Regions from separate parts of the Homo sapiens genome. Here regions 1 and 2 are each reported to be linked to region 3. Evidence: microRNA targets listed by miRTarBase, many of them from high-throughput screens and not tested one by one. Region 3 holds a microRNA gene; each other region holds the end of a gene's coding sequence.

Region 1 (3,257 bases), not on the chromosome of region 3:
TTAGGATACTTGTAGCCCAAGGAGGAGAAGGATTTAGAAAAGTTTTGAGCGCTTCTTGGGCTGCACATAAGTGCAGTAACTTTGAGATGCTAGTACCTGGCCAGGTCTTACCTCTGATACCATCAGCAGTCAGCTATAACATACAGTGGGCCCATGTAACTCATTCTCTTTTTCTCTCTCCTCTTTTGCTCTGCAGGACCTGGGTCGGTGAGAGGAATAAATGGATCCATCAGTCTGGCCGTACCACTGTGGCTGCTGGCAGCATCTCTGCTCTGCCTTCTCAGCAAATGTTAATAGAATAAAAATTTAAAAATAATTTAAAAAACACACAAAAATGCGTCACACAGAATACAGAGAGAGAGAGACAGAGAGAGAGAGAGAGAGAGAGATGGGGGAGACCGTTTATTTCACAACTTTGTGTGTTTATACATGAAGGGGGAAATAAGAAAGTGAAGAAGAAAATACAACATTTAAAACAATTTTACAGTCCATCATTAAAAATTTATGTATCATTCAGGATGGAGAAGGTTCTACTGGGATATGTTTATATCTACTAAGCAAATGTATGCTGTGTAAAGACTACACCACACTAAGGACATCTGGATGCTGTAAAAATAAGAGAAGAACCAGATGGATATTAAGCCCCCCAACACACACTTTATCCTTCCTTCCTTCATCTTTTTTCATCTGTGGGGAAGAAAATAAGGTCTTGCCTTTGGTGTTTATATTTCCATAACCTTTTAATTCTATTTTTCATTTGAGCTGACTTGTAGCCACTTCAGACTATCAATGGAATCTTATGTTGAGCCTTTCTCTGGCTTTCCTTCCTCCACTATCTCTCCAACTTTAGAGATCATCCCCTCTCCCTCCAGTGCGTTCTATCTCCCCCACACCCACCCTAGATACTCCCTTTTCACCCACCTTTCCTCCCTCACCTCTCCTCACCTCCACCCCCTCCCCAGAGCACTAGTCATGCCGCAAATGCTAGGAAGTGCCATTTTCATTTTCTCCACTGTGCGTGTGTGCTCAAGTCTTTCGCTCTCACGTGGGTGTACATGTGTGTGAGCGTGTGTGTGTCTCTCTCTAAAGCATGCCAAGGGAATGGTCCATGTGTACATAGACTCATTGTGCTGTAGATACTGTCCTGCATTGTAATTGTGAGATGCGGCTGTAACAAGTTGCTGGGGGAGATGGCGGGGAAAGAGGCAAGGAGCAGAGTCCTCCCTACATCCATGGCTGTCACATGGCATCAGTGTGTATTCAAACCAAGCTATGCTCCTTCCAAGGGCAGGACCCCATATTCCTCCTAGTCCCATCATCAGAACCGAGTGGGGAGTCACTCAGAATATCACTGTAAATGAAAGTGCCTACTATCGATGGGGTAAGCAAACAGCATAAGGAATTATGACGTGGACGAGGTGACCTAGGAGAGAAAATTTCAGATTTTACTCTCATTTCATGAGTCTGAGGGATTCTTATATTTCCTGGCATTTAACAGGGTAGGCCCTGCTCCACTGTGAAAATGAGCAGCATGTGTTGAGTAAATCCCCAGAAACAGGAAGGTCTCCAAGTGTCAACTCCCAGTGAAAGAATGATGAACCACTTGGAGATCCTAAGCAGCCCTGTTTTACCTCCTCCCTAATCTTAAATAACATTTGTCCCATGAATTCCCCTGAGCAGAGATTGTTTCCTATTTCAGATAAAATACAGTGAAAGTGAGCAAGGCAGAAAAAGTCAACAGATGCCCAGGCTCCTACTGTATTCTGGAGATACTGTCAGAGCTCTAATACAGAGCACTGGCCATAATGAAAAGCAGTTCACTCCTTGTGCTCCTCTGCAGATGTTTTTCCCAGTGTTCTAGGTTAATGTTTTATTTGGTTGCCTGCATAATCCCTGTTCTGTTTCACTGATGGTGTTTGCAGCACCACTGTTCATGGTGGTCCACTGTTATCCTATGCCAGGGTGCTAAGAATTGCATGATATTCATCTTCCCTGCTCTATTTAAATTTACATCTATAAGAGTCATCTTGACATTAACACTGAAATGTGATCTAGGTCCTTAACCAAAATTGCTGGGCAACTTGTAATAAATTTAGACAGAAATTTTATGAGTACCACAAAGCTTGGTGTTACCACATCACCAGAAGGATTTCTTAGGAAATGTCTTGCCGAGAGAGCTGGCTCTCTGCATATAGATGTCTTTGTCAGAAAACCAACCCTTGCTCTCACTTACACAGTAGTAAGCACTGAAAGTGGTTCAGTTCATGAGAGGACAGAGAATTATTTTGAGATTATATTTGAATGTAATCTTGCAGAGCCAAATATGGTATGTCATTAAGTTGGAACCTTGTAAATAGCTGTTCCATGTTATAAAATGAGAAACTTTGTAACTGGAAAAAAAGAAAGGAAAGAAGGAAGGAAGGAAGGAAGGAAGGCAGGGAGGGGGGGACGGGGAAGGGGGGGAGGGAGGGAGGGAGGGAGGGAGGGAGGGAGGGAGGGAGGAAGGAAGGAAGGAAGGAAGGAAGGAGAAAGGAAAGGAAGGCAGGAGGGAGAAAGATCTAAGTAGCATTGTTAATTTCTTCAATTTCTTCTAAGGGATTTTATTGTTTGTTTTAGAAGCTTATCACAGCCTTCTTTCATGATTTTGCAGTTTAGACTTGATACAAGGAAAAATTCAGCTTGGGGATGGTTAAGAGTGTTTATAGCAGATTCTGACATAGGAGAGAAAACAAATTCTCATCCAAGAAGGTAGCTAGTAAAATATAGGGAAGGTGAGCCATATTCCTATGCAGCATCAATTTATTGACAATCAGGTATTTCTCTTAACAGTTTGGTCTTCTTAGTTCAAGAATAAAGGGTATCATCTTTAATAATAAGCATTCCCCAAAAATTGAAGAGGCAGTCACACACTTAAGTGTGTGGCTTTAGAAAAGCGCATGCTAATTTAAAGATATACAGGAAGAGAAAAGTAGGAGTTAAGTTGGATGTTGTTAGAAGTTGGATGTTAGTATTACCTTCAGGAACAGATCCCCATGGCATGTCACAGGCCTTAATTATATACCTGGCTTTCTTATTGTCTCCACTTTATCATGAGGACAAGGTCTTGGTTTCATGGGAGGAACTTCTCCATTGAAATAAATGTCTGCCATGTCAGCACCGTTTGTTCCCTCAGTTTTAATATAATGGACCATATATTAAACATAATTAAACATATATTTAAATGTGGTGTTTGCCTGTGTCTCTAGCAGGATCTTGAA
Region 2 (3,257 bases), not on the chromosome of region 3:
TAGGAGTTCCTTCTTTGGGGAGCTGATTTCACTATAAACAATATTTTATTAAACATTTTTTAAATAAAGGAGTGTCCACTATAGAGGATCCTCCCTCCCTTCTTGCATTTGTCACGAAGAAAATGTACTGCTAAATCACATACGAATTTTAACAAAGTATATAACCCAAATACATCAATAAGGACTTTTGTCATGTCCCAAACAAGGGTCTCCAGCTCTATTAAGTGAAGAAAATTTTCCCAAAATTCAAAATTTTCAAACATCCTCAAACCTATTTAAAAGATCATTACACTGAACAAATTTTCCACTAGAACATGAAAGTGTTCACTGAAAAAAAGCTTTCCAAGTAGACTGTATTCATATATAGCAGCTCTCTATATACCTATATAATGATATATACGTGTGTGTATATATATCATTAAACATTTCTTGTGTCTATAGGAAAGCTACTAACTTTTTAAAAATTTCAGCATATAAATAGCTATTAAGACAATTCACAAACTCAAACTATTCAACTGCATCTCAAAACATCAAAAGAGAGACAGTTGCACAAAATCTCAATGGAAATAACTGAAAACAGCAAAGAAACCAAAAATAACCCCTAAAATTAAAAGTATACACATACACACACAATTGATAATGTAAAGCAACTTGATAATAACTGCAGGACACTCTACAAACTAATTATTAACCGTTCAATTATACTTTCATTCTAGAGTAAAAACAATAGTTTAAATCTCTTTGGTCCACACATTAGTACATTTAATGTATCCAAGTTATTTTCTTGTTAATTTTGGATTATGAATCATGCTCCATATTACTTTACCATAACTTTCTTAAATCATAAAATAAACATATGTTAAAATAAGTATTCATTCTGGAGATCTGAAACAATTTCCACATGCTATTGGTAATTCCTCTGGAAGAATACGAATGCTTTAAATTATTGACAGAATAGCCAAAGTAAAAGAAGAACACAATTCAAGTCTGGCAGAAAAGAAAAAATCAGATTGACTTGGAAAAGTTATGCCTAAATTTAATTTGTAAAAACATCAGGAATATAAAGAACACATGAAAACAATTTCAGGCCTGTACATAATAAAAATAATCAATTTTAAGATTTACTTCAAAGATCCATGCATAGTTGCTTATTATTTTTTTAAAACAAATTTCCAAGCCAGTGTTAGTAAATCTCCCAAATTGGCTTCCATACTGAGAAAAGTACTGCCTCTCCAACTTCTCATTGGTAAGTTGTGGATATACTCTGCTTCTGGATAGAGAAAAAGTGGTATGGGTAACAAAGTTCTTAAATTTGAATGTAATATAACAAAGGCCTACTTTTATAGCAAATTGGATTAAACAGCAAGGCTACCAGGTTATTTTTGGATTATCCTTAACTTCATATTCTCTGCAATGTCTCCTTTGAGTTAGCACATTATAATTGTATCTGGTGCCAAAAAAAATCTCATTAGGAGACCAGTTCAACCCTACTTCCTATACTCTTACAATTACGTATTGCCAGAACCTCTTAAAATGTTTTATATAAAGGACATTTCCACTTTTGCTATATGCCCTCACAGATTCTTCTACTAAACTTAAATCATAACTTCATATCATAAATCAAGAACTGAACAACTGAATTACTCTAATACACGCTCAGTACTGCATTGATATGCTGAGACTAATTGCCAAATTTTAAAATTATCTACTATATTCCCCAATTTTTACTTAGCAAAATTATGATGTTGCCACATGTCCAAAGTAAAATAGTTCATTACTCTTCCTATATAACTTACTTGTTACTTATTTCTACAAATGAGGTCTTTATTTCCAGAGCCTAATTTAGGCCAGTCTCTAAAAACAGTTAATACTCCAGAATGAAAGACTGTTTATGTTTTGTCAAAAATCAAGATATATGCAACACGTAATACAATCCCACTGAGATACTAGTTATAAAGATGTTTTGTCCATGAGATACAAGGCAAAAACTTTCTTTAGAAGGGTCAAAGAATGCAACATGCATTTCAGACTTTTTTCTTACAAAAATTTTTAAGAAAATCTTCAAATTACATTTTTATGACGCACAAACTACAATCAATGTGTATGACCCTTCAAGTTTCTGAATTTGTATAAACAGAATATGGATGCATGAGAGAAGCTATTAAAAGGGTGTTACTTAAGTTGGTGAAAAGTATGCACCCTATAGAGCTACTCTGAGTTCTTAAAACAGTTGAGCTAGTCTTCAGTTAAGAAGACTTATCTTCCACATCAATTAAATAACAATAATACCTAAACATATTGAAGCCCTAAATCCCAGAAACGCGCAACATTAAAAACCAAATAATTTCTCTCATATTAAACAATTCAGTATTTAGCACTCATACGGGATTTAGTGTTACCGAACAAAAATCTTAGTACATTACCTGAATTCATGTCAAATATGTTCACAGCACTCAGCTACATCTACACTTGCAAATTGTCACATGATCAATGTTAACAAAAAGAAAAGAGTTTGGCACATATATCAATACCTCAAAACGTCCCTGTAACTTAACATAACACTGTTAGGAACGATGATTTCAACACCAATGTTAACCTGATAGGCAGCTAAACAAGGTGCTTTTTCTTGTAACTTTACATAGTGTCTTAATGCACCTTGCCTGAGACAGAGGCACATAAGGTGCAGTGCGGTAGTGCAATCACTTGAACACCAGAGGGCAATCCTTCCACACAGCTCAAGGTCTTCCTTATGCTTTGACCTGCTCAGTCCACATTCTTGCACAATTTCATTTCCACTTGTTAACAATGCCGTTTTCAGGGAATCTGTACATCTGTTTCCTTATGTGAAGTAAGACATTCCCACAGAAACCTCAAAGTGTAGCGAGGATCCTTGAAAAGGAGATGATTAATGTCAGTACAGTCTGTCCAACGCCCCATACCAGCGCTTCCAAAGGGGCCATGTTCTTCCCAGCTACTCTGTAAATGCCCGCTACTGCTGCACCTAAGGAGAAACGGGAGAAAAATGAAGGGATACAGTCACTCGTTTTATAACACACTGCATGCTGCACCTTAAGAGCTCTTTTCATTTCATCAAAACATAAGTCATCATTTTTTTCTCATTTTATCCACTTTCTATGAAAAAGTTTCCCTGTGATTGGTGAAAGTTACAACTTACCATAATACACTTAGCCACTTATTTGAAAAACAGACTTTTCTATTCAACCAAAAGATATATATTTATGGTATATGCTGCATAC
Region 3 (3,257 bases):
GGGGCCGGCTTCTTCTCTGAGGTCTACAAGGTAGGACCGGCCGAGAGGGCAGAGGGGCGGGACCGAGCCTTCAACCAGAGGCTGAAACTAGGGGGCCGGGAGTGCGGGGAAGAGGGTCCAGACTCCGGCGACCCGCCCGACCTGCCCGGCCCTCGCCGGCTGCTCCTGCCCCCAGGTTCGGCACCGACAGTCAGGGCAAGTCATGGTGCTGAAGATGAACAAGCTCCCCAGTAACCGGGGCAACACACTACGGGAAGTGCAGCTGATGAACCGGCTCAGGCACCCCAACATCCTAAGGTGAGCGGCCCCAGTCTCTGGGCAGCTTGCTGGGCGGGAGAGAAAGGGAAAGATCCCGCGGGAAAAGTGGAACTGAGGAGGAGCTGAGGCCTTTAATAGCCTATCCTTCTATCTTCCCCATCCTCTTGCAGGTTCATGGGAGTCTGTGTGCACCAGGGACAGCTGCACGCTCTTACAGAGGTGAGGATAGGCCAGGAAGGAGGGATCCCCACCCCCCTTCACCCCCAAGGATAAAGGGAGTCAACAGGCCTGGTGGATCTACGGAGGACTAGTGAGAGGCAACAGGATCTCCTCTCAGGGGAGGCTTTCCTGAACTTTCCTTTAGGCAAACCACATATAAAAGGCCTCAACTGGTCTTATTCTCTGTATCCCCTAGAACAGTGCTGTCCAATAGAATTTTCTTCAGTGACGGAAATGTTCTCTATCTGTGCTGTCCAATACAGTAGCCACTAGCCACATGTGGTTAAATTTAAATTATTTTCATTGTTTAGATTATTTTTTGTGGGTCAACTTGATTAAAAAATTTTTTAAATTATTTAAATTGTTGCACATGGCTAATGGCTATTGAGTTGAACGGGGCAATCCTAGAACATGGATGGGGGGGGTCCTACAGCACAGTCTTACCCCTATGACCTCTGTGATCCTCGGGAGTGTCCCCTAGCGTGTAAGTGGGGGACCTAGAATACAGACTGAAGTCTGACATCTATTCCCATTCTCCTCCTATGCACCAGTATATGAATGGGGGGACATTGGAACAGCTGCTCAGCTCCCCTGAACCCCTGTCCTGGCCGGTCAGGCTCCACCTGGCCCTGGACATTGCCCGAGGCCTGCGGTACCTGCACTCCAAAGGTGTATTTCACCGCGACCTCACATCCAAGGTAGGCTAGCAGGGTGGGTGGAGACATGAAAGAGGGTTTGAGGCTATTAGGTTGTAACTGGCCTGTGGATGTTGGAATATGGATAACAGATATATTAGGATGTTGGAGTGGCAAGGCATTGGAGAATATTGGGGGACCAGGGTGAGGGGAGTGCTCGGAGGGACTGAGTAGCACCCTGTGTTTGGAGTGTTGGATGATGTTGCAATATTGAAGTGCCTTGAAAAACTGGGAGAGCAGAGAGGGTTGGAGTTATGCTGGAGTGACAGGGCTTTGGGTTATACATTGGGAGGCCAGACAGCAGAAGGTGATGAGTGCGTGGGGATACTATGTGTGTGTGTGTCAGAACTGTCTAGTCCGACGGGAAGATCGAGGCTTCACCGCTGTCGTGGGTGACTTCGGGCTGGCCGAAAAGATTCCTGTGTATAGGTGAGATGAATGTCCCTGTTCCCCCCAAATCTCCCAGAGTGCCCCTATCTGATGTCCCCAGAGCCCCAGGGATGTTTCCCTTGGGGAACGGAGGGAGTTCACCTCATCCCCTTTTGCCTGGGGGGGATGCCTGAATAGGATGCTTCTGACCACTCTGCCCCTGCCCCTGCAGGGAGGGGGCAAGGAAGGAGCCATTGGCCGTGGTGGGCTCCCCATACTGGATGGCTCCAGAGGTGTTACGGGGTGAGCTGTATGATGAGAAGGTGAGACATCAACCCTTCAGATCCCCAAGGCCTTCCGAGACCCTTGAGGTATTCTCATAAAGCCCCATCCATCCCCAAAACAACCCTACCAGATCTTCAGGAGTCCCCAAGATCCCTTTGCCCCTCACAGGCACCCTTCTAACACATGAAAACTGTCAAGATCCCCCACCCTCAACCAAATTCTGCTATATTCTGTCAAAATTCTGAAATGAAAACTGTTAATTCTTCCCCGACACTATTATCTCTGACCCCCAGGCTGATGTCTTTGCCTTCGGGATTGTCCTCTGTGAGCTCATCGCCCGAGTACCTGCAGACCCTGACTACCTACCACGCACTGAGGTGAATGTTTCTAGGTTTGCAAAGAAAGAATTCCAGACTAGCTGGCTCATAACCAAGGAGGATTCCCTAGAGGTTGAGGTTCTGACTGGGGAGCAGAAGGAGAACCCAAGAAAAGCTGACTTGGAGGTCCCTCCTTCTGTCCCCACAGGACTTTGGCCTGGATGTGCCTGCTTTCCGAACTCTGGTGGGGGATGACTGCCCACTGCCTTTCTTGCTCCTGGCCATCCACTGCTGCAACGTAAGAGCCTCACACTCCTTCCTGCCCCACCCTGCCCCCATCCGTAAGCTGCCATGGCTGCCCTGTGGGACCCAGGTGATGGGAGGAAACTCAGAGACCCTCTTTCGGAGCACTGAGTGAAGCCGTTCCTGTCTCTACCCATCAGCTGGAACCCAGCACCCGTGCCCCCTTCACCGAAATTACCCAGCACCTGGAATGGATCCTGGAGCAGCTGCCTGAGCCAGCCCCACTCACCAGGACCGCCCTGACACACAATCAGGGTAAGGGAGCCTGACCTTGATCCAGCTTGAGTCCTTTGGCCTTTGTCCTCCCTAGAATTCAGAGGTGACATGGGGGAGGCTAAGTATATTTATTAGTTGAAAAGGCTGGGGGTCGGGCTGGGGTAGGGTGGGAGGACATCTCCAAGAAGACAGTTTCCTAATGCTAAAGCTTGAGGGAGAGGAGGGGAAAGAAGTAAAAGGGGCCTGGAGATGACATCACCCCTTTCCAAAGCACCAGGTGGGACTCCCTTTTTCAAGCTCTAGTCCCACCAGCCTCCTGGAGAATAGTGAGGCCCTCAAGGAGCTGTGATCAAATGCTGAGGACAGTGATTCCAGACTTCTCTATCTACAGGCTCTGTTGCAAGAGGGGGTCCCTCTGCCACGCTTCCCAGGCCAGATCCCCGGCTTTCCCGAAGCCGGTCAGACCTCTTCCTGCCCCCATCACCAGAATCACCCCCCAACTGGGGGGACAATCTGACTCGAGTCAACCCCTTCTCACTACGGGAAGACCTCAGGGGTGGCAAGATCAAGCTCTTAGACACACCCAGCAAGCCAG

The links. The annotated mature microRNA hsa-miR-4667-3p reads UCCCUCCUUCUGUCCCCACAG and lies in region 3 at 2,331-2,351, shown strand. An mRNA with a match to its seed (bases 2 to 7 or 8) in the 3' UTR can be bound and repressed. Matches are read on the target gene's strand: a 7mer-m8 pairs with bases 2 to 8, a 7mer-A1 pairs with bases 2 to 7 and ends in A, and an 8mer does both.
Region 1: miRTarBase lists LSAMP as a target of hsa-miR-4667-3p. Seed matches in the 3' UTR shown: 7mer-A1 at 2,462-2,468, 7mer-A1 at 2,466-2,472, 7mer-A1 at 2,470-2,476, 7mer-A1 at 2,474-2,480, 7mer-A1 at 2,478-2,484, 7mer-A1 at 2,482-2,488 and 4 more.
Region 2: miRTarBase lists TMEM170B as a target of hsa-miR-4667-3p. Seed matches in the 3' UTR shown: 7mer-A1 at 92-98.

What each region holds. Positions count from the first base shown.
Region 1 is chr3:115,807,354-115,810,610 of GRCh38, reverse strand. LSAMP (limbic system associated membrane protein) reads left to right here. Exons shown (of 7, transcript NM_002338.5): 7 at 197-3,257. The coding sequence ends at 294. The region is part of intron 1 of LOC124906269 (a long non-coding RNA gene); the gene reads right to left. Among named protein-coding and RNA genes, the nearest start is that of SNORD155, 96 kb to the left of the region's middle.
Region 2 is chr6:11,575,175-11,578,431 of GRCh38, reverse strand. TMEM170B (transmembrane protein 170B) reads right to left here. Exons shown (of 3, transcript NM_001100829.3): 3 at 1-3,001. The coding sequence ends at 2,871. Among named protein-coding and RNA genes, the nearest start is that of TMEM170B, 39 kb to the right of the region's middle.
Region 3 is chr9:35,605,809-35,609,065 of GRCh38, forward strand. MIR4667 (microRNA 4667) reads left to right here and starts at 2,286; the gene lies at 2,286-2,351. TESK1 (testis associated actin remodelling kinase 1) reads left to right here. Exons shown (of 10, transcript NM_006285.3): 1 at 1-30; 2 at 176-297; 3 at 429-477; 4 at 1,029-1,175; 5 at 1,519-1,601; 6 at 1,774-1,864; 7 at 2,120-2,203; 8 at 2,352-2,441; 9 at 2,587-2,701; 10 at 3,054-3,257. RefSeq lists silencers at 1-49, 1-278, 60-319.